Linked DNA regions of Homo sapiens: region 2 is linked to region 1. Evidence: fine-mapped expression QTL. A gene starts in region 1. The other region holds a variant in brackets. All regions are shown on one strand. Distances are from middle to middle. Region 1 holds the start of AGA (aspartylglucosaminidase). Region 2 has its middle 45 kb from the start of AGA.

Region 1 (16,616 bases):
GGCTGGAGATAAGGGTTTACTGCCACATGGCAACATTCCAGGGCCATTCATACTATACTGCTGTCTATCCATAACGACTCTCCTGGGTACTCACCATGTTAGATTTTCCTTCACATTAAAATAAGCGCAACAGAGTTTCCACTGTGAAGCGGGAGACTTTTAAAATTTTGCAATAATTAATAGCGCATTCTGCTATGGTGGAGGAATTAAAAAGTACGTGACTGGAAGGCAGCTGCTGTGGAGATTCTTCAACATTGTTGGAATATTATTATATCTTAGTTGAACCACAAATATCACCAGGTCAACAAACAGAACAAAATTAATACCAGAATTCAGCACTTTAAATTAAACACTCCGTGAAGGGCAATTCTCAAGGAAATATATTTGAATACATTTCAGATACCAGTGAAAAATCTGACATGTTTCAAATGTGAGATGGATGAATGAATGTGAAAGGGTTCCAGAAAATATAAAGTGGCAAGTTTTCTATTTTCACAATTTGACAGAGATTCCCTATGCTGCTGCTCAAACTCTGATGCATGTATGCACCACCCCAGTGACAAAAAGAAAACTTATCCTTAATGTATCTCCAAAGTAGTCATGGTGAGAAGAAAGAAACATTGTATTTGTAGTAAGGAGCTGTAGATATAGTATCTCACTGCTACTTTTAGTTTCTATAGGTTTGGTCCTGTCATTTAACTTCTATAAACCTCAATGCCTTCACCAGAAAAATGGGAGCTATAGATGATAACACACATGTGACTCTGTTTTGCAAACTGCTATGAAACAGAAGAAAGTGGTGTGACTCTCTTACTGCTTCTTGGTTCTCTAGGGGACTCAGTAAAGAGTAATTCTCTTCCCCACCAGGGTTCTCAGTAAACTGAAATATAAAATTAAGGAGTGGCACAGAGAGGACTGAAGACCACTTTCATAGTTAATAAAGGCTAAGTCAGAGGCCATCCCTTGCTTCGAGAGTCAAATGGACTTCCTAGCATTCAACCCCAGATTTACGCAGCAAGGCAAGACAAAGCAGAGGCAAAGAACACAGTCCCTGTAAGCAGCTCCGGATCAACAGGAACAAGGTCAAAGATGAGGCTGGCATGCCCGGTTTTGTCTTTCAAAATTTATCAATCAAAGAAGCCACTCAAAGCAAAGGAATAGAAAGACAGTGGTTCACTGAATACCCTCGACATGAAAGGAAATATAAGGAGTGTCTTCCTCTAACATTCCTCAGCTTTTCTTCTTATTCCAGATGACTTAAACATTAACGCTTGGTCAGTCAGGGATATGGCTCTCCTCTTTGGAGGAAGATATCATAATCAAGCAGGAGAGTCCTACTCCTACTTTCATGAAGCTACTCTCTCAATACCAGCAATCACTTCTGTGAGTATTTTCCTGAGTCCACTGTGAACAATATAGATTTCAGTCTCATAAGGCTCAGAAAGCTGCTAGAGTACTACATTCATTAAATCAACTCCAAGGTCACTCTGTACCCAAGGCCGAAAATGTATTCCTCATCCTAAACTATGTCCAGTCACATTGTTCAACATAACTAGGTAAAGTTCGGTGCTTCACTTACTCTACTCTACACCACATATCCAAGCCATCACCAAGCCCTGTAGGTTCTTCCTTCAAAACCACTTCTTGGCCAGGCGGTGGCTCACGCCTGTAATCCCAGCATTCTGGGAGGCCAGGGCGGGCGGATCACCTGTGGTCAGGAGTTCCAGTCCAGCCTGGCCAACATGGCGAAACCCTGTCTCTACTAAAACTATAAAAATTAGTCAGGCATGGTGGTGGGCGCCTGTAATCCCAGCTACTCAGTAGGCTGAGGCAGAAGAATCGCATGAACCAGGGAGGCAGAGGTTGCAGTGAGCCGAGATCGTGCCACTGTACTCCAGCCTGGGCTATAAGAGCAAAACTTCATCTCAAACAAAAACAACGACAACAAAAATAAAAAAACAACAAAACAAAAAAAATCCACTTCTCATCACCTCACCATGAGCATCGCACCTCAGCAATTCCATTATGCTGCTTCAATTTCCTCCATGAGTTCTAAACTCTTACTATGCATTTGTTTAGTAGCTTAGGTAAGTTCCATCAGAGTAGGAATTTTGTCTGTTTTATTCACTACTATATCCACAACACCTAAAAACATGCCTGATACATGGTAGGCAACCAATAAATACTTGTGAAAAGAAAAGGGAAAGGAGAGGAGAGCAGAGGAAGGGAGGGGAGGGGAGAGCAGGGGAGGGGAGGGGAGAGCAGGGGAGGGGAGGGGAGGGGAGAGTAGGGAAGGGGAGAGGAAAAAGTAAAAGAGAAGGGAGGAAGGAAGAGGCAGGGAGGGAAAAAGAAGTAAGGAAAAAAGGAAGGCAAATGAAAAGCAACAATTGTTAGGGTTTCTAAGGCTAAGTCACCCTTATATTGCAAGACACCCTCTTCAATTTGTGGTTGAACCTACCTTTGAAGCCTAGAATACAATGTTAGTGGTATATGAAAAGGGCTGTTATCATTTATTACAAACTCCTTATTTTCCAACTCCAGCCTGCACTTTGTCATTATCAGCAATACCAATAGATTTCCCATCAACCAACTAGACTCCCTCTACAGTAAGGGATAACCCTCACTTTTAGTGTTATAACTTAGGTGTTTTAAAATGATACTGAAGAAAGGCAAAAGACTGTGATTAACTAGGATTCAGCAATGTTAGGCTACTTGATTCAAATGGACCCCCATTCATGTTTCACAATCTTTTTTGTTCAGTTATTGCCCATCTTCATAAGACTTTCCATAATAAATCTTTTAAAATGCTTCACCAATTTCTAGTCACCAATTCGATTTCAAATCTGTTGTAATCTTGGCAGGTGATTTTTACTACTCTTAGAGAAGATCAAGATTAGCAGGCATTAATCCCCCATGTTCCTTTAATCTCTTATTCTGAAAAATAACCATCTTTTTCTCCCAGATGGAGAACTGTCATTTTCCTTTCTATCTCTCCTTGAGCACCACAGTCATAATTCTGATGTTGAATGAGGCTTCTTTGGTCCTTGAGATCTAAATAAGATAGGTTTAGACTCTGAATTTATTCTCTTCTGAAGTCCAAAGTCCTTTAAAACGTTTCTAGACATTTACATAGGTCTTAAATTTTCAAGCTCACCTAAGTATCTGAGCTTCTGTTTCTGCATGTGCTATTCCCATTATATACCATGTGGGGTTTGGGGGCTTTTTTGTTTGTTTTTTGAAACATAGTCTCGTTCTATTGCCTACACTGGAGTGCAGTGGCCTGATCTGAGCTCACGGCAACCTCTGACACATGGCAGCCAATAAATACTTTTGAAAAGAAAAGGGAGAGGAGAGGAGAGGAAAGGAGAGGCGGGGAGAGGAGGGGTGGGGAGGGGAGAGGCTGAAGCAATTCTCCTGCTTCAGCCTCCTGAGTAGCTGTGATTACTGGCATGCACCACCATACCCAGCTAATTTTTTGTATTTTTAGAAGACACGGGTTTCGCCATGTTGGCCATGCTGGTCTCGAACTCCTGGCCTCAAGTGATCTGCCTGGTCTGGCCTCACAAAGTGCTGGGATTACAGGCGTGAGCCACTGCTCCCGGCCCCACTGTATACTATGTTGATCCGGAAGCGAAATCCAGATCCTTCAAAATTTTTTGAAAAAAAGAAAGCAATATTGTTGAGTACTGGAGACTTCATTGAAAAGGCCAGGTGGCATCGTTCTGATGATGAGAATAAAGCAGTATTCTACTGGGAGTGTCTGAGAAGGCTTTTGCTTTCTGGATGAAAAGGGAAAGATGTGGCTGATACCAGGTCCTTGTCCTTTTCCCCAGCTTGAATGTGGATGTATGTCTGGAGCAACAGTAGCTGTCTTGTGAAAACAAAGCAGCAAGTAAGTTCTCACAGTTTAGAGCTACTGAACCAATGCCAGCAACTTTCTTATTAGGTGCAAAAAAGTAAAGCCTTGTCGCTTTAAATCACCATTAAGTTTTCTGTTATTTGCAACCGAAAGCACTTAAAGCTAATACAAAATTGCAGAGTTACCATGATCATAACTCTAAACCTATGAAATTCAAGGGGTTTAATGATTTATGAGTTGGGTGCGGTGGTACATACCTGTTAGTCGCAGCTGAGGCAGGAGGATCGCTTGAGTCCAGGAGTTCCAGGCTGCAGTGAGCTATCATTGTACCTTTGAATAGCCACTGCACCCAGCCTGGGAAACACAGCGAGACCTGGCATTAAAAAAAAACATTTTTAAGCTGTGCCTTTATTCTAAGGGCCATCCAGTAATAAGGGAACCTAAACTACTGAGTGTCCTCAGAGCTCTGGGTGCAATTAAAAGTTAGTGGTTTCACAGCTACCCAATTCTGTGGTTAGTAGAAAATTATAAAGATGATAGGAGGATCAAAAAGCCTCTTCCACAGAAGCTACATTAGCTGGGTGTGGTGGCCCATGCCTGGGATTCCAGCTGCTCAGGAGGGTGAGGTGGAAGGGTTGCTTGAACCCAAGAGGCAGAGGATGCACTGCCAATCCTCTCAATCTTGAGCCAAGATTGGACCACTGCATTCCAGCCTGGGCAACAGAGCAAGACACTGTCTCAAGCCCCTCTGATATGAGGGGCTTCCTCATATCAGAGTTCTTATGATACCATTCTCTCAAACCACCTGACTCCCTGAATTTGTCCTGAATTTGGAGAACTGCTTAATCTCTAAATCTGCCCTCTTGAGAAACCTTAGTGTTAGTAACAGACAGCGCTAACTCTGCTTTGTCAGAGTCCTGAATTCCTAATACTGACCTTCACTCATGATCTAGCGTGATGCTATTTTAATTGCTACTGACTATCATATAAACTCAACATAGTATCTGACAGATTAATTCTGAAAAAATTCTTCGTATACAAAGCCAAAAATTTTTACAGCAACAGAAATCAATGGTTAAGTAATTTCTGTGCATCATAAATAGATTTTATACATCCTTTAAAATTACATTGTATCTGCACATGGAATTTTTTTTCAGAGACAAGGTCTCACTGTGTTGCCCCAGGCTGGAGGGCCGTGGTGCAAACAGCTCATTCTAGTTTTGAAACACTGAGCTTGAGCAATCCTCCTGCCTCAGCCTTCCATTTAATAGCTGGGACTACAGGCAGCAGTTGCCACCACAAAGTTAACTTAAAAAAATTTTTTTTTAGAAACAGAGTCTAGCTGCATTGCTCAGGCTGGTCTCTAACTCCTGGCCTCAAGCAATCCTCATGCCTCAGCCTTCCCAGTAACTAGGATTACAGACATGCACCACCACACCCAGGTGCACATGGATGTTTACAGCAGCTTTATTCATAATTCCCAAAACTTGGAAGCAGCCAAGATGTCCTTCAGTAGGAGAATGAATAAACTGTGATACATCCAGACAATGGAATATTATTCAGCGCTTAAATAAAATGAGCTATCAAGCCATGAAAAGACATGGAGGAACCTTAAATGCGTATTACAAAGTGAAAGAAGCCAATCTAAAAAAGTCTCCATACTGCACAATTCCAACTAAATGACCTTCCAGAAAAGGCAAAAACCATGGAGACAGTAAAAAGGTCAGTTGGTTGCCATGAGTTAGAGGGGAGGGAGGGATGAATAGATGGAGTAGAGGATTCTTGCAATACTCTAATGGAATATATGCCAGTATACATTTGTCAAACCCACAGAATGTATAATACCAAGTGTGAACCTTAATATGAATTATGGATGTGGAATGATAATGATGTGTACAATTTGTTCATCAACTGTAACAAATGTGCCATGAGGTCACGAGATCAAGACCACCGCTAACGCAGTGAAACCCTGTCTCTACTAAAAATACAAAAAATTAGCTGGGCCTGGTGGTGGGTGCCTGTAGTCCCAGCTACTCGGGCGGCTGAGGCAGGAGGATGGCGTGAACCCAGGAGGCGGAGCTTGCAGTGAGCCGAGATGGCGCCACTGCACTCCAGCCTGGGCAACACAGCAAGATTCCGTCTCAAAAAAAAAAAAATATGAACTATGGATGTGGAATGATAATGATGTGTAGAATTTGTTCATCAAGTGTAACAAATGTGCCACTCTGGTGGGAAGGCTATCATGTGTGGGGGCAGGGGTATATTTTGTACTTTCTGCTCAATTTTGCTGTGAACCAAAAATTGTTCTTAAGAAATAAAGTCTTCAACTTAAATGTAAGACCTGAAACTATAAAAATTCTAGAATAAAATCATAAAATCTAGGAAAAACTCTTTTGGACATTGGTCTAGGCAAAGAACTTATCACTAGGTCCTCAAAAGGAAATGTGACAAAACCAAAAATAGACTAATGGGACTTCATTAAACCTAAAGGCTTCTGCACAGCAAAAGAAGTAATCAACAGAGTAAACACACAACCTTCAGAATGGGAGAAAATATTTGGAAACAATGCATCTGGCAAAGGACTAATATCCAGAATTTAGGAAGAAATCAAACAATACAATGACAAAAACAACAAATAACCCCATTAAAGAGTAGGCAAAGACATGAACACATATTTTTCAAAAGAAGACATACAAGTGGCAAACAACCATATGAAAAAAATGTTCAGCATCAGTAATCATCAGAAAAATGCAATTTAAAACCACAATGAGATACCATCTCATACCAGTCAGAATGGCTATTACTAAAAAAGCAAGAAACAGCAGATGTTGGCAAGGATGTGTAGAAAAAGAAACACTTATACACAGTTGGTGGGAATGTAAATTAGTATAATCTCTATGGAAAACAGCATGGAGATTTCTCAAAGAACTAAAAATAGATCTACCCTTCGATCCAGCAATCCCACTACTGGGTATCTAACCAAAGGGAAAGAAAGCATTTTATCAAAAAGACACCTGCACTCAAATGTTTATCACAACACTATTCACAATAGCAAAGTCATGGAATCAACCTAAATGTCCATCAGCAAACAACTGGATTAAAAATGTGATATATGTATATATACACACACACACCATGGAATACTACTCATCCATAAAAATGAATGAAATCATGTCGTTTGCAGCAATGTTAATGGAACCGAAGGCCATTATCCTTAGTGAAATAACTCAGAAACAGAAAGTAAAAAACTGGATGTTTTCATTCGTAAGTGGGAGCTAAACAATGAGTACACACAGACATTTAGAGTGGAATAACAGAAGACTCCAAAAGGTAGGAGGGAAGGAGGGGGTGAGGAATGAAATACTACCTTTTGGGTGCAATGTATCCTGTTTGGGTGATGGGTACACTAAAAGCCCAGACGTCACCGTTACTCAATATATACATATAACACAACTACACTTATACCCCGTATCTATAAAAATAAAAAATTAAATAAAATTTTTTTAAATCTTCAGAGAACATGTTATAGAGGTCCTTAGCGGTTTTCTGGGGTACTGACAATATTCTGTTTGTTTATATAAGTGGTGATTACATAGCTGTTCATTTTCTACAAAATTATTTAATCTATTTATTTACATTTTATGTCCTTTACTGTATTTACATTGCACAATGAAGGTTTTTAAAAAGCATAAATTTTAATGATATGCAGAGGTCAAAGAGATATTAAATAAAAAAGCAGGTTCTACAACAGTGTGTATAATACCAAGATTTTTCACCAAACAGATACATATCAAAATGTTAAGAGGCTGGTGATTTTCAACAAGAGCTAGAGTATTTCAGAGATATTTGAAGGACACAAAAGTGTTTCTAAAAAATGAAAAAAATAAGCTATGTTATGTGAAAATCTTTCCTTTCATATTTTTATATGAATGATTGAGAATTAACAGACTATTTGTGTAGCTACACACAGGATACATGTGTTCATTATTTGGATAGTTTTCTAATACTCATTGTCATGATCGACAAGTAGATATCATTTTAAATGCATAATGTACTTCCTGTAAGTCACTGTTAGTTTAGAAGTTTGCTTTTATTGTTGAATTTCTTTATTGAAATCATCTGTCACACTACCTTAACAATGTCAAAGTCATTTTTTAAGTGGTAGGAAGACATCCTGACATCTACTCTGTTGCCCTAAGGCTTTACTATTGTAATGGATCACATTTATGATGACATCATAATGTTATAAACAACTGTCACAAAAAGCAAGATCCACCATGTTTAATAGTCTACTATGTCCTTGTTATGAAAACTATATCACAGCAGTGGCCCAGTATTACAATTACACATTGAAAATATGTTGTACATAATTTATTTTGATAAGAAATAACTTAATAGGCCCACATTCTACTGCACAATCTTGGTCTTTATAAGTCACTAAGATGACTTTTAAAGGTTAAAAAGTCAAAAAAGTTTGTGATTAGAATCTGCTATTGATTTGACAAATGGTTTTGGGGGCATGACCCAGAAAAATTATTTCAGAAGAGAAGAATGCTCTCTTTTCTCATTTAGAGAATAAGAGGATGACACTTATTTCTGTATAATGACTCTAATTACATCCAGAATGTACAATCAGGTAGTAACATCAAATGTTCCCAGATTAATGTAGACATTGATTTAAATTAGAAACACAGTACCACAATGCTCTAACATCAGCAAAAATCATTACTTACAGTTTATGAAACTGACAGGAGCAAATGCCAATCAAGTAAATAGCCTATATTTAGATAACCTAGGTAATAGTTCAGTGGGGAGTTTTGAAAAAGAAATTATCATTTCAATGCCAAGTCAGGCTTACAGCTTTGAACAAGTAGCAAAACATGGACATGTTTCTCAAATGGATTTCACAGCATCAGTGCAAAAGCCGGAGGGGATGGCTTAGTTTTTTAAGCCTCAGAATTGAAATACCTAGACTCCCTGCAACTACAGCATTAAATCCTCTGTGGAACCACAGCTTCAAATGCTATCAGGAGGGACTCAACTCTTCATCCTTCTGAGACTGATAAATTGAAAGCCATGAAGTTTAGAGGAAATAAGAGAGCCTGCAGCGGTCTGAAACTCCTCCACCCACCTCCAACACACACACATACACAAACACAAACACACAAAGGCTCTATTTGCAACATCACTTAAGATTCCATTTGAGGCTTTCCCCTTGTTAAGACTTAAGGGTGTTGTTTTTAAGACATCCAGAAATCTCACAGTCCTGCCATGCACCATCTTTATAAGCATTCAAACCAAATTTCAGGCAGCTCCAAGTAAACTAAAAACATTATTTTTAATTCTCATTTAATATATTCAAGGAAATTCTAAGTGATTACTTTCAAATGCATTATAGGTATTGGGCCAACTCTTTATTCTTCCTGTGGAAATTTCTGTGTCTCAAATTGATCAAATTGATTTCTTTTTACTGCCTTGTATGTTTCTGGACTGCCTCCTTGACATCAATTATAGGTACTTGGGAATGGCAAATTAGAATAAGAGAATTTTATTTAATTTGCCTGGTATTACACCATTCTCCCACATCTCCTACCTCATTCACAAAGCTTTGTAAAATAAGAAAGAATACTATTATTATCTCCATTTTATAGATGAGAAAAGCATGGCTTAGGAAGCTTACATGAGTTAACCACAGCTGATACACAGTCACCTTTTTTTAATTTTTTTTTTAATAGAGACAGGAATCTCGCTATGTTGCCCAGGCTGGTCTCAAACTCTTGGGCTCAAGCCATCCACCCACCTCAGCCTCCCAAAGTGCCAGGATTATGGACATGAGCCACTAGGCCTGGCCACACCCTAAGTTTTAAAATCTAAGTCTGGAAAATCCTCCTGAAGTATTGCTAGTTATAAGTAAGCTCTACTTAGGAACAGAAACATTTTGCCAAACAAAATTGTGTAATGCATTCTAAATTTAAATAAAAATACTTTTACAAATAGTTCCTTTGATTTATCAGTAACACTAAATATCTCTGCCCTGTGTATAATGATTTAAAAGAATGAAAAATTGGAGAGGATGCTGGAAAAACTGAGGATCATTTATTTTACGGTCTACTACTGAAACAGGAAAAGTTCCCTTGTCGCCCTTGCAGGGCGTGTGATGGGGGTGTGGCTCGCTTCTTCAGTGTCCTGCTGCTCAAACCTCTATAGGGGCATACAGACGGGCAGATTGTGAGGCTCTGACCCCACAGCAGTGTCTAGGTGTGAATGTTTACAGCTGAAGCCCCAGTGGGCATGTGTTACAGGGTGCTCTTTTAGTTTAACCGTCTGTAGGCGGCTTGTGTTAGCTCAATTAGACCCCTGCCTTATCGCAAAGACAGAGGGCTTTCTGTATCCCGGGTTCTTACCTTGGTGTACGGGAAGAATTGGATCACACGTGGGCTTGAAGAATGAGTGGAAAGTTTTATTGAGTGGAAGTAGCTCTCGGCAGACGGGGGAACCAGAAGGGAGACGGTTTTCTCCTGGAGTCAGGTATGGCGGCCTGACTCTTCTCTGACCTCCCGCGACAAACTCTGCATTCTTCCGCTGGTCAATGGCCTGCCAGCATGCCGGTGTGCTCCTATGCTGGTGCGTTCCTTTCGACATCCAGCAGCCCCTGTATTCTCTGCCTATATGCTCCTCTCAATGTCCAGCTGCTTGTGCGTCTGCCTGCCAGGGTCTCGGGGGTTTTTAAAGGCACAGGATGAGGGCATGGCAGGCCAGGGTGGTCTTGGGAAATGCAACATCCGGGCAGGAAAACAAAAATGCCTGTCTTCACCTAGGTAGGCCCAGGCCCAGGGATGAAGCCCTAGCTGGGGACCACGCCCTCCTCTACCCAGCACTTCCCGCCCCCCTTCCTTATCATTTAAAGGGACCACGCCCTTCCCTTCCCAGCATTCCCTTCCCAGCACTTTCCTGCGGCATCACTACCTGTTAACAGGTGTTCCTTTTCGTTTAGATTTACCTCAAAACAACGGCGAAGGATCTAATTATATTTAGGCCCAAAAGAGCACCTAAGTGAGAGTAACAGAAGGTTACTTCTAGAACTAAAATGAAAATTATTCTTCAAGTGTTAGTCAAAGGAAAACTACTCCAGAAGGAACCAAATATCCAGACGAATTTAACTTAAGAAACAGCTACAATTTAGGCAAACTGGACAGTGGATCCAGTAGGTATTTTAGTAGCCACTAAGAAGACACTGAATCGGGTAGATTCTATAGGGATTGCATATTAGTTATTTAAATACAAATATCCGGCTGGGCACGGTGGCTCACACCTGTAATCCCAGCATTTTGGGAGGTCGGGGGGGTGGGGGCGGTGGGTGGATCACCTGTGTCAGGAGTTCAAGACCAACCTGGCCAAAATGGCAAAACCTGTCTCTACTTAAAATACAAAAATTAGCCGGGCATGGTAGTAGGCAGTAGCAATCCCAGCTACTCAGGAGGCTGGGGCAAGAGAATCGCTTGAATGCAGGAGGTGGAGGTTGCAGTGAGCTGAGATTACACCAGTGAACTCCAGCCTGGGCGATAGAGCAAGACTCCATCTCAAAAAATAAATACATACATACATACATACATACAAATATCCATGGAAAAGTTGATATATTGAGACCTTCTATCAGCCATTCCCACTATAGTGTAATTTAGCTGTTTCTCTGACAGGAATTTTTATTTAAGAAGAAAGAATTTGGAGAAATAGACATAGTAGGAGGTAACAGATCAGGCTCTTTCCACCAGAAGAAACACAAATACCTTAAAAAACAGGAAGAGGCTAGAGAGATCAGTGGGGTACTAAGACCAATTTTCCATGTATTGTATTTTACAATTTTTGCTAAAGGCATGTCCTAATTCCTTAAGGCTGCATAAAAATACTCAGCCCAGGAGCTAAGGAAAATTTACTCAGAGGACAATGTATGTTTTTCTGGCTTTCTTACCCTGTTTCACCCAAGTTTCCAGTTTCACCTGCCATTGGGTTATGATTACTCCAGCACAGATGACTTGTTCCTCTTCCAAACCCCATGAAAGGAACTTAGAAAATTTGTCTTTATTATATCTTTTAATTAACACTTCCCCAACGGGATAATGATACTTCTGGGCTATCTTATGTTCTTTAAATTATGTATTTAATTTCCTAGCAATCAATAAGAGCCTTGAAGGTTTTGTAAGTCTCACAACTCCTACCTAGTTTATATTTTTACATTTATTTATTTATTTATTTTTGAGACAGAATCTCACTCTGTTGTCCAGGCTGGAGTGAAGTGGTGCGATCTCGGCTCACCACAATCTCCACCTCCCGGCTTCAAGCAATTCTGCCTCAGCCTCCCAAGTAGTTGGGACTACAGGCATGCACCACCACGCCCGGCTAATTTTTGTATTTTTAGTAGAGACGGGTTTCACTATGTTGGCCAGGCTGGTCTCGAACTCCTGACCTCGTGATCCACCCACCTCAGCATCCCAAAGTGTTGGGATTACAGGCGTGAGCCATCGTGCCCAGCCTAGTTCATATTTTTAAAGTTTGTATAGATTTATAGATGCTTTTAAAAATTATGTGATTATGTGTCTTGCCTTGGCAACCTGGGCAGGCATTCCAGACACCCAAAGGGATTATTAGTTCATGTTCGCACGTCTGCCCAGCAACAAAACTGAGCAGCCTCCACCAAGCACGTAAAATCCCCATTCCTCCTCTTATTCATTTATTTAGCACTTAATAGTGCCAGGCAGGAAGGTAAAAATACATTTAAAAAGGAATGGAGGTAGCCGTCTTGCCCTGGAGGTGCAGGAAGCTGCACTTCAGTGTGCTAGGTAGAGGGTACATAGGCCGTTTCTGTTTTTCTTCCAGCTCAGGGATTTATAATGAGAGGAAGTGCTACAAAAAGCTGTGGTGCGAAAATGACGGACGCTATGAATGGAAAAAAAATCTAAAATCAATCCGGTCCTAAGCAAACACGCTTCACCTACACTCATAACTATTGCAGACCTCCGAGGCCTGGGATCCCCAAGAATATACTGAGTTTGACAAACTTTTCAACTTCAACTTTAAATTAAAAAGACAGTAAAAGAACCAAATCCATAGTACACAGCAATCGGCTAAAGTTCCTGGGGCCCTGCAACCCAGAGTTGAATAATTTTGTATTAAATTCCCAATATCAAGCTAAATCTATTTTAACCACAGGAAAAGCAGCAACTTGTCTGGCTATTTTAAAAATCTGAACAGCACTTAGGAAGAAGCACCTTAGCGCAGGGAACAGCTCAGTGCCCCGTGACACAACTCTCCCGCGGGCCCAGGGACGCCTCGTCTCGCGAGAGTTGAGGGACGCCTGAGCGAACCCCCGAGAGAGCGGGCGTGGGCGCCAGGCGGGCGGGGCACTGGGGATTAATTGTTCGGCGATCGCTGGCTGCCGGGACTTTTCTCGCGCTGGTCTCTTCGGTGGTCAGGGATGGCGCGGAAGTCGAACTTGCCTGTGCTTCTCGTGCCGTTTCTGCTCTGCCAGGCCCTAGTGCGCTGCTCCAGCCCTCTGCCCCTGGTCGTCAACACTTGGCCCTTTAAGAATGCAACCGAAGCAGGTGCGGGTTGGCGGCCTGGGCGGGCGGCTGCGCCGCGAGAGCTTGCGGGTGGGGATGACTAGCCCGCCCCGCTGCAGTCACCCGGCAGGGCGGACGGAAGAGCGCCGGGCTGGGCCGGGCCTCGCGGTCCCGCCCTCTAGGTCTTCCCGAGTCTCCAGCGCCGCTCAGTCTCTTGCAAGTGGCCTTTACTGCATCCTCCCCACCTACCGCTGTTGCATTTTAGGTCCTCCCTTCATGCAGCCCCCAGCGCAATGTATTTTCCACCCTGCTGCTGACCATAGTTATGGCCTTTGTGCTTTAATCAAGTAGCAGCTACGCTTTTCTGCCTGACAGTCTTTTCACGGGCTGTGTACGTCTCCACCTCTCGTTTCTAATCCTTCACTTCTTTGCAATTTTGTAGACGACTAATAGTGTCCCAGCCATAGCCTACTCTTTTCCCATTTACTTTTTTTGCCACGTGTTGTCATACTTTACCTGCCACTTAGAATTCAAGGTTCCAACCTTTGCTGTACATTCACACTATCTGGGGAGCTTCTCAAAAATCATCCTGCCGGGGCCCACCTCCTGTGACTGTGATCTAACTGCTGGAATCAGGGCCACTGTTTTTCTTTAAAAAGCTCCCTAGGTGATTTCGATTTGCAGACAGGGTTGAGAACCACTAAGCTAAGGTATCACCTCTTCCAGGAAGCGTTCCCTGACTTAACTGCCCTCGTGTCCAGAATGAGTTAGGTTCCTGCCTTCTACACCTTGTTAATAGCCTTTACGTACCATTATCTTGGCATTTTCGCATTGTACTATGCTTGTTTCTTTCATTTGCTTAATGACCAGAAGAGTCATTTTCAGACCCCTCCTCCTCCATCTGAGGTTGCTAACGTATTAACTTTCTAGGGCAGAATTGGCTCCAGAATTTGGTGGCAGTGCATACGATTCAGAGAAAATGAAGAAGCAGGCTGTGAGAAAGATATTCCCAGCCATAATGAGACGAAAAGAAATTGCATCAGCCTGGGCGGGGGACAGTTCTGTGTTTAAGTTGCCTGTATTGAAAGAGGGAACTTGCGTAAATACACTTTCAAGCCTGTAGGTGCTGTAGTGTTTACCAACCAGAGCACCCACTCTTCAAGGAATTCTGTTGTTACCAGAAAAGAAATTGTCCATCAAAGACCCTTCCCCCCACACCCCCAAATGTATGGGATCCTGGCTCTGCTACTTACCAGCTGTGTGACCTTAAACTAACTGCCTGACCTGTGGCTCTGTTTACTTTTCTTTAAAATGAGGGTCGTGATTGTACAGTACCTACCACAGAAGCTGTTATGAAGACTCAATGAACTAATCCATATGAAGTCCACGTTGTAATTGTTTGCTGTTCAGTATTATTAAGACTTCCTGGGATAGGTGTTACCTCAATACACATATCAATTATGCATATTTTAATCTAATGATGCAGAAGAAATGTGTGAAGAAGGCTGCGGTTTAGTGGATTTTTTATTTAACTGCCTTTTAGTGGTTTCGATTGTACCTTTTAAAATAAAGGAGGGGATACTGATTTCGTTTCTCGCACACAGAAGAGATAGATATTAGTAAGTGAAAAAAAAAAAAACCTTCAGCTTGCACCAATAGCCAGTTTTTTGAGTTCTTCTGATAACTAGTTAAATAATTTTGACTCTTCACTGACTCCTTTGTAACACTTGATAAACTAATGTGTTAAAAAATCAGCTTAACTCAGTAAATGTGAAAAAGTTGTTAAATTGGAGTTGGTTTGTTGCATTTGGCATTGAAAAAAAAATATATATATAAACAAGCATTATTGGGATTTGATTAACAGCGTGGAGGGCATTAGCATCTGGAGGCTCTGCCCTGGATGCAGTGGAGAGCGGCTGTGCCATGTGTGAGAGAGAGCAGTGTGACGGCTCTGTAGGCTTTGGAGGAAGTCCTGATGAACTTGGAGAAACCACACTAGATGCCATGATCATGGATGGGTAAGAACACCGTTCAGGTCCTATTTATTATGTTGAGTTACATTTAGAGTTGTGGTCTTCTGAGAGCAAGATGAAAGAATGCATGAGTTTTGACACAGATCAAAACCCCTAGCTTATTATACTTGACCTTTCTAAACACAGTTTCCCTCTCAACTGAAAAAAAAAAATCAGAGTAATAGAAATATCACATGGAGAGATAGGTAGTCCCTTAGAACTGGGAGAATGCCAAGCTAAAAAACTATGTCTCTGACCTTATAAACAATCATTTATCTGCTGTCCACAAATGCTGTGGTTTGCCTGACCTGAAGCCTTCAGGCCCCTTTCAAAAGCCATATTTAAAATTAGCTTGGAGAAACTGAGAATTTTAGTGCTGTTGTGGTACATGGCAAGTTGATTTTCTATTTTTTTTCCTTAATTTTGTCTGATTGTGGGAATCTATATGAACTTCGTGGATGTGCTGTCACTTCTGTGTTAAGATGGTGGAGTTTAACCGCAAAACACTATTGATTGGAGAAAAGCAATGTTTTTAATCTATGAACCTCTGAAAACTCCTTAATTCCTAACTGCATTCTATTTTCTTGCAGCACTACTATGGATGTAGGAGCAGTAGGAGATCTCAGACGAATTAAAAATGCTATTGGTGTGGCACGGAAAGTACTGGAACATACAACACACACACTTTTAGTAGGAGAGTCAGGTATTTTTTTAACTACACTGAAATTTTTTCTAGTCTTTTGACTATAGTTTTCACTGAAAAATAGTACAAAATCATGGATAAAACCAGATCTAAGTTCAAATTCCAGCTGTTTTACTTAACATCTATTGAACTGGATAAGTAACTTTTAAATCTCTTTACTTCTTCATCTCTAAGAAGAAGGCAATGGAAGTTTTGAGACGGAGTTTCGCTCTTGTCACCCAGGCTGGAGTGCAATGGCGCGATCTCAGCTCCCGACAACCTCTGCCTCCTGGGTTCAAGTGATTCTCCTACCTCAGCCTTCCAAGTAGCTGGGATTACAGGCACGTGCCACCATGCCCAGCTAATTTTTATATTTTTAGTAGAGACGGGGTTTCACCATGTTGGCCAGGATGGTCTCAATCTCTTGACTTCGTGATCCACCCGCCTCAGCCTCCCAAAGTGCTGGGATTACAGGTGTGAGCCACCGCGCCTGGCCGGGACGAGAA
Region 2 (16,616 bases), 50 kb after region 1:
GTCAGATAAGTTATGTGAAGTAGAAGAAAATGTCACCTGGTAAATGTGACACTGTTTGAGGGAGAGCTTGAAAGGTATTTTTTGTCATTGATGGGTCTCCAATAACTTTTTAAAAGAACAGGTGGAATTCTTTTGAAATATTTGAATTGGGTTTTTTTTCTGCCAAATTTGCTGAAAGATTACCATGCAAATGTCAAATTTTGTTTTTAGAAAATATATAAATTGAGATAGTCAGAGTAGCGTTCTGCTTGATTTCATTCTACATGTCAGAAAAAGGAAAATCTGAAGGGAAAATATTTAAAAGCAGCCCAAGATGGTTACAGGTTGGATATATGGTAATGGAAACGACGCCCATGAACTAGAGCTGAACCTTTGTCTGCAAGGCTTGAGGCTGTCAAATATTTCACTGACCTGTACTGATTACAGCCTTGCCTAGCAGATGATTCACAAGGGCACAGTAGAACAGGTCATTCCTCTCTGGCCCTAAGATGCCCACATGTTCTTAAACATTTTACCCTCTATGCCTTAACCACATATTTGCTGTATCTTATGTATAAGACCACTGAGCAACAAACAGAATTGTAAGATTGTCGCCTTTGCTTGACTGCCCCCTTCTCCCATTCCTGCGTAGGAGGAATGTATAAATACTGTGCCTCGTGTAGCCCACTTGGGGACACATTGTCGTTTTGCCCTGACTCTGTGTTTCCTGGGCTATCATCCTCAAACTTGGCCCAGAATAAAGCTCACTTTAAATTTCTTTAAGTTACAGTGCTTGTTATTTAACCTTTCAGTTGACACATTTGAGAGTTAGATTGAAAGGGGTTCTTCGTGGCACTTGAACCTTCCTCTGTTTTTTTCAGATTGTCAGACAGTAGGTCCTATCTCAGACCAGGCTCTCACTGCTACAGGGAGAGAAAGATTTGAAACAATGACTGTATCATAACTGGCGATCCAATGTGTGTCTGTGTGCTTCTGTGCTTTCAGATTTGTTTTTTGTGTTTCTGAAACTGCCTTTGCAAAAATTATAACTGAGGAAATGATGACAGTAAAAGAACCTAACCGACTCCATCTTGCTTCTGACCTTTAAGCTGTCCTTGTTATTCCTGGGCATAGACCAAACTAACTTCGGGAAGGAATTCAGTTCATGGTTTGACTCTGAAACAAAATGGATAATAGCTCTTTCTGGAAAAAAATTCCTTCTTGCCTGGGAACCAGTCTGCCTTTGCAGGATTAACAAATTAGCTACAAGATTAGAAATTACAGTTCAGCGGTCACGCAGCCTCTGGCTCCAAGAGTCTGAACCTCCCCAAATTGCTCCTGGGGATACCATCACTATTGTCAAACCTGGGATCAGTAATTGAGATAATTTGCTGATTCTGCACCCCTCAGTGGATCAGCTGACACCACCCAGACCCGTAATTCGGCTGAAATGGTTCTGCCACCCCACCCAGGAAGAGGAAACAGCAAGAAAAACTCGCTTTGACTCCCTGTGTTTCCATCTCCAACCTGACCAATCAGCACTCCCTACTTCCCAAGCCCCTACTCGCCAAATTATCTTCAAAAACTCTGATCCCAGAATGCTCTGGGAGACTGATTTGAGTAATAATAAAACTCCGCTCTCCCGCACAGCTGGCTCTGAATGAATTACTCTTTCTCCACTGCAAGTTCCCTGTCTTGATAAACGGGCTCTGTCCAGGCTGTGGGCAAGGTGAACCTGTTGGGTCGTTACATTTCAAGGTGGTGAAAAAAAGCTTATCTTATTCAAAGCATTTTGAGTATACAGAACTCCTAGAAGTCTCTGACCATCTGGTGAAGTTTAGTTGTTGTTTTTTTTATTTCCATATATGTTTTATAATAGTTTAATATTATTTTTTAAATGTTCAACTTTCCTGTTTTTCCTGGTGAATCATGTTTATCTTCTTACCACAGTGAGATAATTTAAGTCTCAGTGAAAATGCTATCCGTATATTTAAGGTAAGGATACAACCCTCAGAACTTTGTGAGTCAGATGAAGGAATTGCTTACAGAGGTAAGATTAAAAAGGAAACTAGGTGATTCTTTATACAGGGTAGGCAGAAAGTGACAGCTGGGTGTGAAATTTGAGCTCTTTGCCTTATGGATTAAATCACTGTCTTGTGTGATATTAGGATATCATTATGAGCTAACACATAAAACAAGGTTTTTTTGTGGTTAAGCTACTGGCTTTCTTAATTTTTCACAAAATGGAAACTAAAGCCAATGTCTCTGAAATGCTACAATGAATCATGACTTCTACTAGATAAGAGTGCAGAGTACTTAATCTGTTGATTTTTTCAGTCAGATGGGAAGTTCTGAATCATTTTCAACACTGTGTTAAATATGTTTTTCTTTAATTAATTAATTAATTAATTTTTGAGACAGAGTCTCACTCTGTCACCCAGGCTGGAGTGCAATGGCCAGATCTCGGTTCACTGCAACCTCCGCCTCCTGGGTTCAAGCAATTCTCTTGCCTCAGCCTCCTGAGTATCTGGGATTACAGATGCACGCCACCACGCCCAGCTAATTTTTGTATTTTTAGTAGAGACAGGGTTTCACCATGTTGGCCAGGCTGGTCTCGAACTCCTGACCTCAAGTGATCCACCCGCCTCCGCCTCCCAAAGTGCTGAGATTATAGGCTTGAGCCACCGTGCCTGGCCTTTTCTTATTATTGAAAGAAAAATTCTTGTAAATATAAATATCAGCCCCTAAATCTCATTTAGCTGATTACTAGTGTTTCAATGAAAATGCCACATTCTCAGTTGAGAATTTCTGTTTTTCCTTCCTCTTGGTATTTATTTGGCCTGTAACTAAGGGAGGAGACCACCCCTCATAGAGTCTTATGCCCAATTTGTGCCTCCGAAGAAAGAAGAAGTAAAAACTAAAAGGCAGAAATGAAATCCATAGGAAGACAGCGCAGTGCCGCGCCCTGGGCCTGGTTAAAGATCGACCCTTGACCTAATCAATTATGTTATCTATAGATTACAGGCATCGTATGGAAAAGCATTGTGAAAATTCCTGTCCTGTTCTGTTCCCTTCTGATTTCCGGTGCATGCAGCCCCCAGTCATGTACCCACTGCTTGCTCAATCGATCACGACCCTCTCACGCAGACCCCCTTAGAGTTGTAAGCCCTTAAAAGGGACAGGAATTGCTCACTCAGAGAGCTCTGTTTTTGGAGACATGAGTCTTGCCGGCGAAGCCCCTGGCTGACCGAATAAAGCCCTTCCTTCTTTAACTCGGTGTCTGAGGGGTTTTGTCTGTGGCTTGTCCTGCTACATAACAATTAAATGGATGTGAATCAGCTCTGCAGGTCTTCATCTTTCTTCACCTCAGTACTTGAGCATTTCCAGAATAAAAGCCTTTCCTAATCATTCTCAAGATATCTTCCTATTTGCAATGCAATCTCCTCAATCAAAGGAACAAGCAACAGAGTCTTTCCTGGAAGCATGCGGAGAGTGTATAAGAATCTTCCTGCTTTAGGTTTAGTGAACAGGAAAGGGTGACCATATTGGTTGAGTAGGAAAACAAAAACACAGCAAGAAAGCCACAGTACTTCCTGTGATGTTAGAAACATCCATGTAAAGAAATAATGTAGATAAATAGGGAAATGAAAGACTTGCCAACACTAAGTCACTTTTTCTATGTGTTAACAGGCATTCTCCCTAAATACAGCCTGCTCTGTCCTTCACAAACACACCCCAGGCTCTGAGTAACCAGGTTTGATCAGCGAGATGAATTGGGAAAGCCCTAGGGCCACAGAAGGAAACAGACAGTTATCTACAGCGAGGTAGATTACGCCTCCAACTTGCAAATGCGGAGCCCTTTCCTAGGTCAACTCCTGTGCTAACAGCAGTTGTTAGGTCTTTGATTTTTCCTTCTGGAAATCTGCTTCTGCAGAAAATGTGAAATGAGCAGAATTGTAGAAACAGGAGAGGGAGGAGGGTGAATATAAGGATGGCTTGTGTTAGAAATAATACTAGAAAAATATCACATATGTCCTTCTTGGGGTTGATGGTGAGAGAAATATATGCATTTTTTTCCAGAATATATTTATTAGAAGTCTGCCTAGGTTCAGAAAGGCAGACTAATCTGAAACTCAATGTGACCTAAATCATCTGAGATTTGATGTGGCTCATATTTTATAGAACCTAGCCCAATTACTAAATAGAAGAGTTTTATTACCTGAAATTGCCCTCATAAAATTAGTACTTGTATTTATTTATTTATTTTGAGACAGAGTCTTGCTCTGTCACCCAGGCTGGAGTGCAGTGGCGCTATCTCGGCTCACTGCAAGTTCCGCCTCCCGGATTCACGCCATTCTCTTGCCTCAGCCTCCCGAGTAGCTGGGACTACAGTCGCCGACCACCATGCCCGGCTAATTTTTTGTATTTTTCAGTAGAGACAGGGTTTCACCGTGTTAGCCAGGATGGTCTTGATCTCCTGACCTCGTGATCCGCCTGCCTCAACCTCCCAAAGTGCTGGGATTACAGGTGTGAGCCACCGCTCCCGGCCAGTACTTCCTTTTAAAATGTGAGAATCAGCAGGTGTGCATTCTCCCTGCACCCCTATCATTATTTTCTTTGTATTTATCAGTGTGAAATATGCATAATCTATGTTACACACATATGTGTATATGCATAACACGGTTGTAAACAAATATTCCCCACAAATTGCTGGAGGCTGTGTGATGTGGTGGGAGGGACTGAAGGGAAGATGGTCTGTGGACTGGATGAACTGCTGAAAAATCCAACAGTTACCAGGAATGATTCTCTCTATACTCAGAAAAACACCCTGATATGGTTAGTTCTCTCCAAATCTCATGATGAAATGGAAAAGAAAAAAAGAAGGAAATGGAATCACCAGTGTTGGAGGTGGGAGGCAGTGGGTCACGGGGGCAGATCCCTCATGAATAGCTTGGCCCATCCCCTTGGTGATATCTGTGCTCTCGCTCTGAGTTCATGCAGGGTCTGGTTGTTTAAAAGAGTGTGGCATCTCCCTCCTCTCTCTCTTGCTCCTGCTCTTGCAGTGTGACATGCCTGCTCCCACTTTGCCTTCTGCCATGAGTAAAAGCTCTTTGAGGCCTCACTGGGAGCTGAGCAGATGCTGGTGCCACGCTTATTGCACAGGCTGCAGAACCATGAGCCAGTTAAACCTCTTTTCTTTTTCAGTTACCCAGTCTCAGGTATTTCTTTCTAGCAATGCAAAAAATGGCCTAACACAACCCCAAATCTCAAATAAGGAGAAGCAATAGCATTAGAAGGAGGAAACCACAGTTACTGTGAGAGAAGAATGAAAGATTCTTCTTCCTTCCTCGTCAAGCCATGAGGATTTCACCTATCATCTGTGGGTTTTGAGAAAGCAAACTTGGCCAGCACTCTGCTGAGAACAGTTGCTAACTGCCAAGAAAACTGCACATACCAATGGAAACTGTGGCCTAAAAGAGTAGAACAATAGATCCATTCTCTCTTTGATTATTTCTTGATTTTCCCCGTGTCTCAGACACTGTTCTAGGCCCAGGGATACAACTCTAAAGAAATAGGCAAGACTCCCAAATCTCATGTGCTGGAGGGAGAAAGGAGAAAATTATCAATAAGCAAATAAACCACTAAGATCATTTCAGGCTGACTGATGGGGTATAGATGCAGCTTTAGACTGGTGATCAGAGAGGTTCTCTCTGAGGTGGTAACTTTGACTTGCAATCCTGAATATTGGAGTGGCACCAGGCATGGAATATATGGGGTCTGATACTTTGCAGTGAATATTAACTAGCAAAATTGGCCCATAATTATCACAACCATCTTTATACCTACAGAGTTTAAAAATGACACACTATGAAAGCACCTCTGAGAGTTCTGGCAACTCCCATGCAAATGCTGCATTAAATACAATGCAGTGTATCCCCTAGGCATTATTTGAACTTTTTATAAAATCCATGCAGCTACCACTCACACCACTCAAATATGCCATACTCATACAGGCATATTTCTTCTGTTAAGATCATCACCATCCCCTTTGGCCCTTTCAAACTCTCTTGGCACTCTCAATGTTTAGAAGGGGTGTTAATTTGAAGAAAAAAACCTTGAGTTATGTAAGAATTTTCTTCTCTTTTCTTTTCTTTTCTTTTCTTTTGAGACGAGGTCTCGCTCTGTTGCCAGGCTGGAATGCAGTGCGTGATCTCGGCTCACTGCCTCCTGGGTTCAAGCAATTCTTGTGCCTCAGCCTCCTTAGTAGCTGGGATTACAGGCACGCACCACCACACCCAGCCGATTTTTGTATTTTTAGTAGAGATGGGGTTTCGCTATGTTGGCCAGGATGGTCTTGATCTCCTGACATCATGATCCGTCCACCTCAGCCTCCCAAAGTGCTAAGATTACAGATGTGAGCCACCGTGCCTGTCCTATGTAAGAATTGTCTTAGACAAAGAATATATACTACTACATGATTGTCTTAGCAGGGACAATGTTTTTTCTTGTCCCTGATTCAAAACCATTTTGTGTTGCTTTGTGTTAGCTTTAAAATAGCAGATATATAAGTGATAATAAAAATGCTGTATTTCTACTCTCAGAGTACTTCCATCGTAAATAACTTCCTTGTAGTATGAATACTCATTCCTGAAGCTTACTCTTGTGTGTAGGTAGGGTAGATGTTCATCAATGTATTATGAATGAACAATTTCAAGAACAGCAGTCAAACATTTTTATTTATTATGGTTTCTAGCAATTGCTACATTCTCAAAATTTTTATTTCTTTCCCACTTAATGGAAGTTGACATTAAGTCTCAGATGGGTGACACTAAAGCTTTTTATACCCGGTGCAAATGAATCTCACTCTTTTCCTAGGATTTGGTATTGGCGAGGGCAAGAATAAAAGTAGAAAAATACTGTGTTTGTGGCAAGGAGTGAGAAGAAATAGGAAATGGAAGGCCTGAGAATTAGTTACCCCCAAAGAGAAAAACTCATGTAGAACAGGGAGACTGTGTTGTCAAAAAAATGTATATTCTCATTGGTCTCCAGACAGCTGGGGCAGAAACATTTCTCTAAAAATAGTGTGTTGACATAGGAAATTATTAACATCTCTGGTAGATCATTCTATTTACTCAGAAGATGTAATGGACTTTCTTGAACAAACAGCATTTATTCCATGAGAACTATAATAAGACATTCTTCTTGCCCTCTAGGGGCTTATAATCAAGGGGAAGGGTGGGCAGTATAGAGGAAACTAATGTTGGGAATCAATTTTCTGGGTCTGTTACATTTCTTCATGTCTTACGGACAGAGGTGCAGAGGTACAGACCACCTTTGTTTTGGGGTATCTTTCTAAGGATGTTTGTTTAGTGAACAGACTTGGAAGACAGTAAAGGGAGCTGCCTCTGGAGCAAAGGACAGGTTTGTTTGTGGTTTAGAATAATAAATTAATGTCTCCAGGCAAAATTTAGTAAGGTTTACTTCTTATTATAAAGGATTTGGGCTTCGTGAGTTCAGGGTTCCTCTCCACAGGGCAACCCACTGCACATGCAGGCGTTACCTGGCCTTCTTTGTGTCTCCCTTGGGAACTGGAGTTTAGAGAACTGGGACAAATGCTGATATTCCAGCTACTGCTATATCTTTGTGTAATAAAGTCCTTTGTCTCTGACCCAGGAGTTTCATGTCTTCTGCCAGCATTCATGAATCTGATAGGTAAACATGTTAGCTTACTTTTGGATAAAATCTCAGATGCTCCACAATTCTTGACAACCAACATGCTGCCCATTTTTTATTTCAAACACAGTAGATAACTAATGATAAAATAAGGTTGACGATAAGCCATTAATAGAAGTATAAGCAAATTATCATGAAGGTATATCTGAAGACAGATCATTTTGATCGGAGAACATATGGGAAGACCTAGAAAGCAGAATTTGAATGGGGCCTTGAAGGAAGGGTAGGACTTCAACAGTTGGAGTATCAGGTAATGGCATTACTAGTAGTGGGAACAGTTTGAGTAAAGTCTAAGGACATGTTAGGCAAGGAGAGACTGGTTATATTGGTGGGTAGGGTCAGGAGAAAAGAAATGGAGCAACAAGCCTTGAAAAAGGGACAGCATCCAACTCTCTGGGGGGACTGTGTAATGTTTTTGCATTTTTTCTTCCTTGGAATCATGGAAGTTTTTTGTGTGTTTTTTTACAAGAAACTTTTACAATCTAAGTACTTTGTACGGAAGAAGTGGCTTTGGTGCTAGAAAAAAATAGCACTTAAATAATTTCTACCCTTCAAAACTGAGAGTTGTCATCGTCTTAAATTCTGGACAAAGGTAGTTTTGTTTTTTCTTGATTGCCCTAATAAGGAGGAAGAATACACACTAGCACTGTAGATTCACTGCATTGTTCAACACCAACTTGCATGCAAGGTAGGTAGTATGGTGGTATCACTGGGACAATAAGAATCCAGAACATTTTCTCTCTGTCCAATGTAATCTATGACTCTAGAAAATGAAAAATACTTGTCTTGGCAAAGAAGCACAACTTCCCATTCTGAGCAGCTGCTCAGACCTTTGAGACTTATTCAAGGGGGCATCCCAATAACGTTGCACAGCAAGTCTCTAGTCTCTTCCTTGCACAGAAAAACAAATCCAGCTAAATATGCACATAATTTCCAGAAATACAGTCTGAAGAATGTGGCCTTCATTTCTTGAAAGGCCTTAGTAAATGTCAGTGATCTAAAAAGTAGACTCCAATGCCACATCAAGGACCATGCTTGCTAGAAACAGCTCATTTACAATTTGAGGAAAAGAGTCAGAAATGAAATGTAGGAATATAGCTTTTTAGACATCTTAGCAGTTGATTCTTGATAGGATGGATGTTTAAAAGTTCTAGCATTAATGATATTTACAATAGCACAATATGAAAGCATCAAGGTCACTTCCCAAATGTTCTTTCACTATGTTGCTTTCCAGAAGGGTAAATATGACAGAGTGTCTAGAAGCTGCCTAACAGTGGTTTTATCATAAATTCTGAATGATAAATGACTTTCAGACAGTCCTAAGCATCCCACAATGGGCTCTAATAGTACTGAGAGAAAATTTTACGATGAATACAAATCACCCCTAAAGCCCGTAATACATCATGCTGAGTAATATCACAATAAGAATGGGAAAGAAAATGAAACTTTAAATAGGCATATGCTTTTATGTACTTTGACTTGAATTTGTATTCTTTCCACCCACTCCCTCAATCTAACAATAAATATTACTCTGGAAAATAAGAAAACACCTTAAACATTTCTTGGAAAATTTGATTTGTAAAAAAAAACACAAAATCTGTACTATAAGAGATTAACATTACAATTTTTCTTATTGGTTAAATCGAGAATAATGATAATGCTTCCACATGCTCCCTTTTGAAAAGAGTTTTACATGTATTCTCATTTGAACTTTATAATAACTTAAAATAATAGACATTCCCATTTTATAGACAAAGGAATCAGCACATTTAAATGACACTTTGGCTAGCTCACAGGTTAATGAATGATAAAACCAGGAGTAGGAACTTCCGTCTCTTGAAAATTGAATAACAGTCTTACCAACTACCTAAGGGGTAGGAACTTCGGTCTCTTGAAAATTGAATATTAGTCTTACCAACTACCTAAGTTCAACATAAAATAATTTTGGGACCACTGTTATAGTAAATATTGCTGTGTAAAAAGTGATCCCTTAACTTGGAGGTGTTTTGTTTGATGTTGCTCAGGAGTATTAAATAATTTGTGGCTTTTATTTCTCAACCATCACTATCCCTAACGTCATTTTCCCCTCTGCTTTCATTTGAGCCAAATATAATACTT[A/G]TTAATATATCTGACCTGAGTTTATGATAAATTTCCTAATAAAACTCAAACACCAAACCCAATCCATTCCTTTGGAGGTAAGATAAACTCTGTGTGATTCCATCTCTTAAAAAATCTGCTTAATTTGCTTTTGTGTTCAAAATAAAACAATTTTGATTAAGAAACTGCCATTCTATGATTAGTGAAGCCCACATAGAATAACAGCAGAAGGAAAGTGGTGATTCCAAAGGGAAGAGAAAACCGAATCACCTCACTTCTCAAGTAAGTGAACTCAGTGCTTTCTGTGCAAATTTTATTTTCTGTGCAAATGACAAGAAAGATAAAGGAGTAAATGTCTGTGAAGTTTATAAAATGGTTATTTTTTTCACTTAATGGCAGTTTGGTACCTTTTTTAAAAGCTGCTTGGGAAGAAAGTAGATCACCTGGTTGGATTGAAAACATTCTAACTAATGGTACTAGGCAGTGAATTATAATATTGTCTTCTCAGTATGCTCTATGGCCAGAATGGTATGCACACACACATTACTCTGTATCAGTTATTTTTTAAATTCAGGTGACCTGCTTATAACTGATAGATGGGAAAAAGTACAATTAAATGTAAGATATTTAATTTGGTCTTATGCAATAGCTTACATTTGTGTTCCATGTTAAAGTTTTTCAAGTGTTTTCCCAGATTTGATTCTTTTGATCCTAACAACCACCTTGGGAGGTAGATAGAATCACTATTTGTAATTCACATTTTGCTGATAACAAATGAGGTTTGTAAAGGCTGAATGGCTTGCCTACCAAGCTCCTAAAAGTAGGCAGAAGGAGAACTAGAATCAAGACCTGCTTTATCCAGTGGCTTCTCTATTTATTTTTTGAGGAGTCTGGCTCTGTCACCCAGGATGGAGTGCAGCGGTGCGATCTTGGCTCACTGCCTCCTGAGTTCAAGGAAGCAGTGAGCCTCCTTGACCTCTGCCTCCTGGGTTCCAGCAATTCTCCCACCTCAGCCTCTGGAGTAGCTGGGATTACAGGCTTTTGGCACCATGCCTGGCTAATTTTTTTGTATTTTTAGTAGAGATGGGGTTTCGCCTTGTTGGCCAGGCAGGTCTTGAACTCCTGACCTCAAGTGATCCACCCGCCTCGGTCTCCCAAAGTGCTGGGATTACAGGCATGAGCCACCGTGCTCAGCCTCCAGTGCTTATTCTATCAATCTGCAAACGCAGGAAGAGCAACAGGACAGTACAAAAGAGGAATCTTGTAAGTTCAGGTATTTGGCCAGAATAGGCCTGAGCGTATTTAAAAATCCAGGTTATTAGGAGAACCCAAGGTGTTTCAGGAAAGAAAATATGTGGCAGAAAAAAAAGTAGAGGGAAAAAAGCATTAGTTCAGGATTTGAATAGTATGCAATTAACCAGTGATATGCTTTAAAATCTCCCTTTAGCCTTTATTTGTGTGGCATACAATGACCAGACCAAGCCACTCTTATTTTTCCTCTAGCATTCTCTGGAGCTAATTAATTAATAGATATCTTCTGTCAGTTCTTCTCAAGTTCAGCAGGTTATTTGAAGCATTAACCCTCATAGGCTTTGAGAAAGAAAAGAAACAGTCTGCAAGACATAATTGCAAATGTGTAAAATTATGCCAGTGAAAGGTAATATGTAAAAATGAAATAGCTGAGCTAGGACTATTGGGAGACACTCTGGTTTTTTAAAAGACGTTGTTAACATTTGTATTTTCAGTTTTAAAATAAACCTGACTGATTCCTCAAAGCCTAGCTTTGAGTAAAATGATGATATAGAGAACATGGAGACAGTGAAGATATAGTAATACCTGCACTGCTGCCTAGAGGATTGTGAATTTTACTCTACTTTTTGTTTTGTGATCATTTACAAGCTAGTGATGAAAGGAGATTTTACATGGCTCTAAAGTTGATTCTTGTAGAGTGTAAGTTTGAATCCACAAACCCCCATATACTAAAAAATGTTGTTTACTTGAAGACAAATTAGTCTCTGAGCCCCCTTCTAACTTGCCTAATGGGGAATTCAATCTCCATCACGGTGAGTGCCCTTCTAGTTTAGGGTCCTCAACGTTCTTTGGGCAGGGAGAGACTCACCCAGAGTAGCCTAGATGGGGACAGTCCTCCTATGACCAGCCCACCTATATGCCTTACACGTGTTCATGTTCAGACCCACGTATCCTCTGAGGTTCAGGTTTGTTACTCCTGTGCCCCTCACAGCCTGGGACAAAGCTGAGACCCTCTAACTGGAGTACAGTCCACCGAGCTCACACTGCAGCAGTTTCCTTCTAGAGCACTGTGCTCAAAGGCCCTGGTCTCCCTGCCTTCTGCTCTAGTACAGACCCCTAGAGGAGCTCAGGATTCTTGAAAACAAAGATCACGAGAAAGAGTTCACCACAAACCACACTTACTCCCCGCCTTCCTTCTGCATGAAGCTTCCCTCGTGCACAGCGGCACAAAGGCCTAGCTACGTGCTTGGTCAAGTCAGAGAGAAGCAAGAGGAAAGCAACAATTCAAATCCATATAGCTATAAATTATGCAGCCAGAATAATTTTCATCTCTTGGCCCTCTAGAAAAGCAGATATGGGGTCACCAAAAATGCAGGATCTGGCCATTTCTTTCCCAATATTCCCTTTCTTCATTTTTACAGCTTTAAAATGGAAATGATCTCTGAAGGGGTTAAGCCTCATCCATTCGCTGGTGTGAATATTCTAGTTAGATGAACATCCTTCTTAATTACCAAATTAGAGATATTTGATTGGGATGGGTGGAAGGAGGAGAGATGGGATGGAGGTCAGGACTAAAGGGGGCAACCCACAGGCAGAATGGGAGAGTGGGGAAGCATTGGCTAGCAGAGGACAAACAGGAGGGCTGCAAATAGTGGTGGTTTGGAAGGTGGTAAACCTTTGATTTCCCCAACTCACGGCCTCTCTCTTAATCCAGACCACCCTAGCCCAGCTTTGTGTTTTCCCGCATCTTTCCTACTAAAAATACAAAAAACTAGCCAGGAGTGGTGGCAGGTGCCTGTAATCCCAGCTACTTGGGAGGCTGAGGCAGGGGAATTGCTTGAACCCAGGAGGTGGAGATTGCAGTGAGCTGAGATTGCACCACTGCACTCCAGCCTGGGCAACAGAGCAAGCCTCCATCTCAATAATAATAATAATAATAATAATACTATAGCATGCTTTTTTCCCTGAGATTGATCAAGAGACTCAGATACAAGCATATACAGTAGTTACTCAGAATTTCAAGGGATATAATGGTAGGGGAGACCTCTAGATGACAATTACAAGGAAGAAAACAGATTTTTTTATATAACTTACCTTCTAGCTAATTCTCCCACATTAACTAGGGCAAGAAATTCTGAAATACAAATGTGTATCATAGGAGAGATTATAGAAATGCAAATGATTAGAACTAAAGTAATGATGACTGAGGGATATGATTTCCTTGCTGGGTACAAACGTGTCACAGCACTATAGGAGAGACCCAGGGAACAGCTGTTATGTGACTAAGGAGGTATTAGCGGCATAGACAAAGGTACATGTGCTTGGTTACTCAACTTTAAAAAACAAACTATGACAAAACGCTGGAATTGTAAAGCAGAGTCAATAATCAGCAGGAAATCTGTACACTCTTTGAAAACAACCCGGAGCAAACTCAGGAAAAGTGTGTGCTATGAATCAAAAAGAAAGATTGTGTAACACCTTGCCTTTGCTGCCACCCTCCACTCTCATCTTTCTTCTGCCCACCTTTCTGCCTTCCGCTACCGCTTTTTTTCTTTTCCCATCACTACCCCCCTCCAACTTCCTATACAGAGAAACTCACAGATAGCAGTTAACTGGCAAGTAATATAGGCTAGTATTATCAAAAACATATCTTTTCAAAGATGGTAAGTTTTTCCAGATGAAAACAAGACAAAGAAAACCCACATATATTGTGGCAGGTTAGGAACAATCTAGGAATTTAGAAAGCCAGAGATAATTCAAACTGAACCTACTGGCATTCTTTTATTCTTCTCGTCTTTGTTTCCCTTATCTATCTCTCTTTGCAACCGAATTGCCCCAAATCTAAATTGTGAAGACTGCAACTTCTGGAGCATCTCCTATAAGCCAAAATAAATGTATTTCCTTTGATGCTTGAAGCAACAAATAAGATAGATATTACAACCTTTATCTTGAAAATGAAAGCACTAAAGCTCAAAGACCTTCAGTGATTTGCCCAGGGCCACCGAGCTGGCAAGTGGGCGGCAGTGGATCTTACCCCATATTTGTCTGCATTCCATTCATCACAGCCCACGGTTCCCCCCAGCAGACCTCATTGCCTCTTATCCATGTTATTGCAAGAGCTTTCCTGCTTTCAGTCTCATATTTTTCTTTCAACCCAGCCCTCACAGTACTTACAATATAATTTGCCCAATCAAAGCTTTCCTGTCTGAAATAAGTTGGGACATCTATTTGATCTGTACTTTCAGAAGAATATGGTGGACGGGAAAGGGGTCATAAGGAGTGCAATTACAGAAATCAAGAGAAAGCAGAGGCAGTGAATGACAATTGACTAACTGAATTAGGACTCTGGAAAGTTGAAGTGGAGAAGAGATGCGACAGAAGCCAAAAATGTTAGAAGGAAGGGAAGGGAGTGAAGAGATGTGGCAGTGAGCCGGCAAAATGCCATGCAGGTGAAAGGGGTGACGAATGAGGGAAACTTTAAAGGTCTAAAAGGAAGAGCAGCTAATAGGATGTATATAAAACTTCTAGAAAAGTCTACCATTTTGAGATAGTAAGTGTAAAAAACATAAATGACTTCAGGTTGGCTTTGGACACATTTATAGATCATAGTCTTATAAAATACTATTAATGGAAGCCTCTGATATTTGGAATAAACTTTAATTTTTCTGAGGTGAATATCATCAAGAACAGTTATCCTTTCTTTTTTAGAGGACACTTTGCAGCTATAGTCAGAGATAGAGTTACAGGCAGAATGGTTGAGAATCTCACCCTATGGGGAAAGGCAGCGTAGCTCAATTCTGTCTATGACTCTGCCACTGACTTACGTGGTCAGTTTACATGTTCTTTCTAAGCCTGAGGTTTAATATCTGCAAAATGAGGGGAATGATAATTTCTGCCTCAGAGAATGGTTATGAGAACTAAAAAAATATATATGTATGGGCTTGGCACAGTGTTTAGGACATGGTAAGCATTTACATGCTTACCATTTGAATATGTAACAATTGAATAATTGTTGAGTATCTGTGAGCCTTCCCTATGATTTTGAAGTAAGGAAGAAAAGCAAGGAAGCAGGTAAGGAAGAAAAAAGAGAGAAAGACAGTAAAGAAGAAAGGGAGGAAGGGAGGGAGGGAAGGAGGGAAAAGAAAGGGAGGGAAAAGGGATTTAAAAAAAAACTGGAAATAAGGCAGGAGATTTCAAACAAGAAATTTGTAGTGTAAGGAAAGTAAAACAAACTGAACATCAAAATTGCTCGGTAAACATGAAAACTGGATGTGAAAAATTAAATTAATAGAAATGATTGAAACAGAAAGTAACCAAATAATCTGACAAGTTAATGTGTCATTAGGTAACAATTTGCAAGGAAGAAAAGACAATAAAATGAAAAAAAAATGTGCAGATGTAACATATTCCCCAAGATATTCCCAAAGTGACACTAGGCACTGTCAAAGATAAAAGCCTAGTGAGCTTGAATTTACACAGCTTAGACATTCCAGCCTAGTGGTCCAATAAGAAAACAGGAAGGCGAGGACTGCAATTAGATATAAAGGTGGTTATGGAAAGAAGCACCATGCTTGGACTGGTTTAATATTGCCTCACTATTTCATAACATTCTCATGTGTAGTTACTTTAAATAACATATTTGAAACAATGGTAATAAAAAGGAAAGTGAAAATAATATTAATAAATAAAAGAAAAGCAGATATTATGAAGTCAGTTAAACATCAGGCCTGACCTTTTACTATTTGTCCGAAAGCATCGGGAGAGTTAATTTAGCCAATTTTAATGGAAACTTTAACTGCTTCATGCTCAATAAGGCTATGAAGTTGTTCCCTGTGGCAGCTCTGAAAGACAACTGTGGAAAACCAGTTATGCCTGAGACATTTATTTCCAGCCATTTCCTTTGCCTGCCTGAAATTCTTCTTCATGTCATCAATCTCTCGATATACTCTTAAAAAATCATTATCCTCTTCTTCTGACCTGGAGGAATTCTCTTTCTCTTTCAGACTCTGAAAGAGAGCAGTCACTCTTTCGTGTTATATCGACAATTTGGTAACAGCTGAGAACTACAATCTCTATGAAGGGAGAAAAATACCTTTTCCCCCATCCCCAAATTCTTATCTTAAATTCCACATAGTAAAGTGTTCAAATGATATTTTGTGAATAGTTTTATCACGGGGCATAGTTTTATCAACCAGGCTGGAGGCTAGTGAACTGTGGCCCGTGAACTGGATACAGATTGTTGACACCAGCTCTCTTAGTGTCATTAGTCATCCGAGAGTCTTGGCCATTTTTATTTCTTTAAGGGAAGAGTTTGCTCAGATATGAGAGGGTTAGCATCAAAAAATAATAGGTTGTCTTGATAAGTGTTTTAGGTTTTTCATAGGAAACGATGTTATAAACAGAAAACCTTTCTTTCTCTTTCTTTTTTTGAGATGGAGTCTCGCTCTGTTGCCAGGCTGGAGTGCAGTGGCGCAATCTCAGCTCACTGCAACCTCTGCCTCCCGGGTTCAAGCGATTCTCCTGCCTCAGCCTCCCGAGTAGCTGGGACCACAGTC

Evidence for each region.
Region 2: its variant is fine-mapped to the expression of AGA in whole blood (TOPMed, PIP above 0.99). The same link has a PIP of 0.9 or more in CD4 T cells.

What each region holds. Positions count from the first base shown.
Region 1 is chr4:177,439,091-177,455,706 of GRCh38, reverse strand. AGA (aspartylglucosaminidase) reads left to right here and starts at 13,270. Exons shown (of 9, transcript NM_000027.4): 1 at 13,270-13,458; 2 at 15,281-15,434; 3 at 16,019-16,131. The coding sequence starts at 13,332. It overlaps AGA-DT (AGA divergent transcript), which reads right to left and starts at 10,697. Exons shown (of 4, transcript NR_183779.1): 1 at 10,264-10,697. RefSeq lists enhancers at 12,605-12,684, 12,775-13,318, 14,145-14,224.
Region 2 is chr4:177,388,986-177,405,601 of GRCh38, reverse strand. No RefSeq gene overlaps it. Among named protein-coding and RNA genes, the nearest start is that of AGA, 45 kb to the left of the region's middle. RefSeq lists a silencer at 12,173-12,232. The variant A/G (reference allele first, on the strand shown) is at 9,832.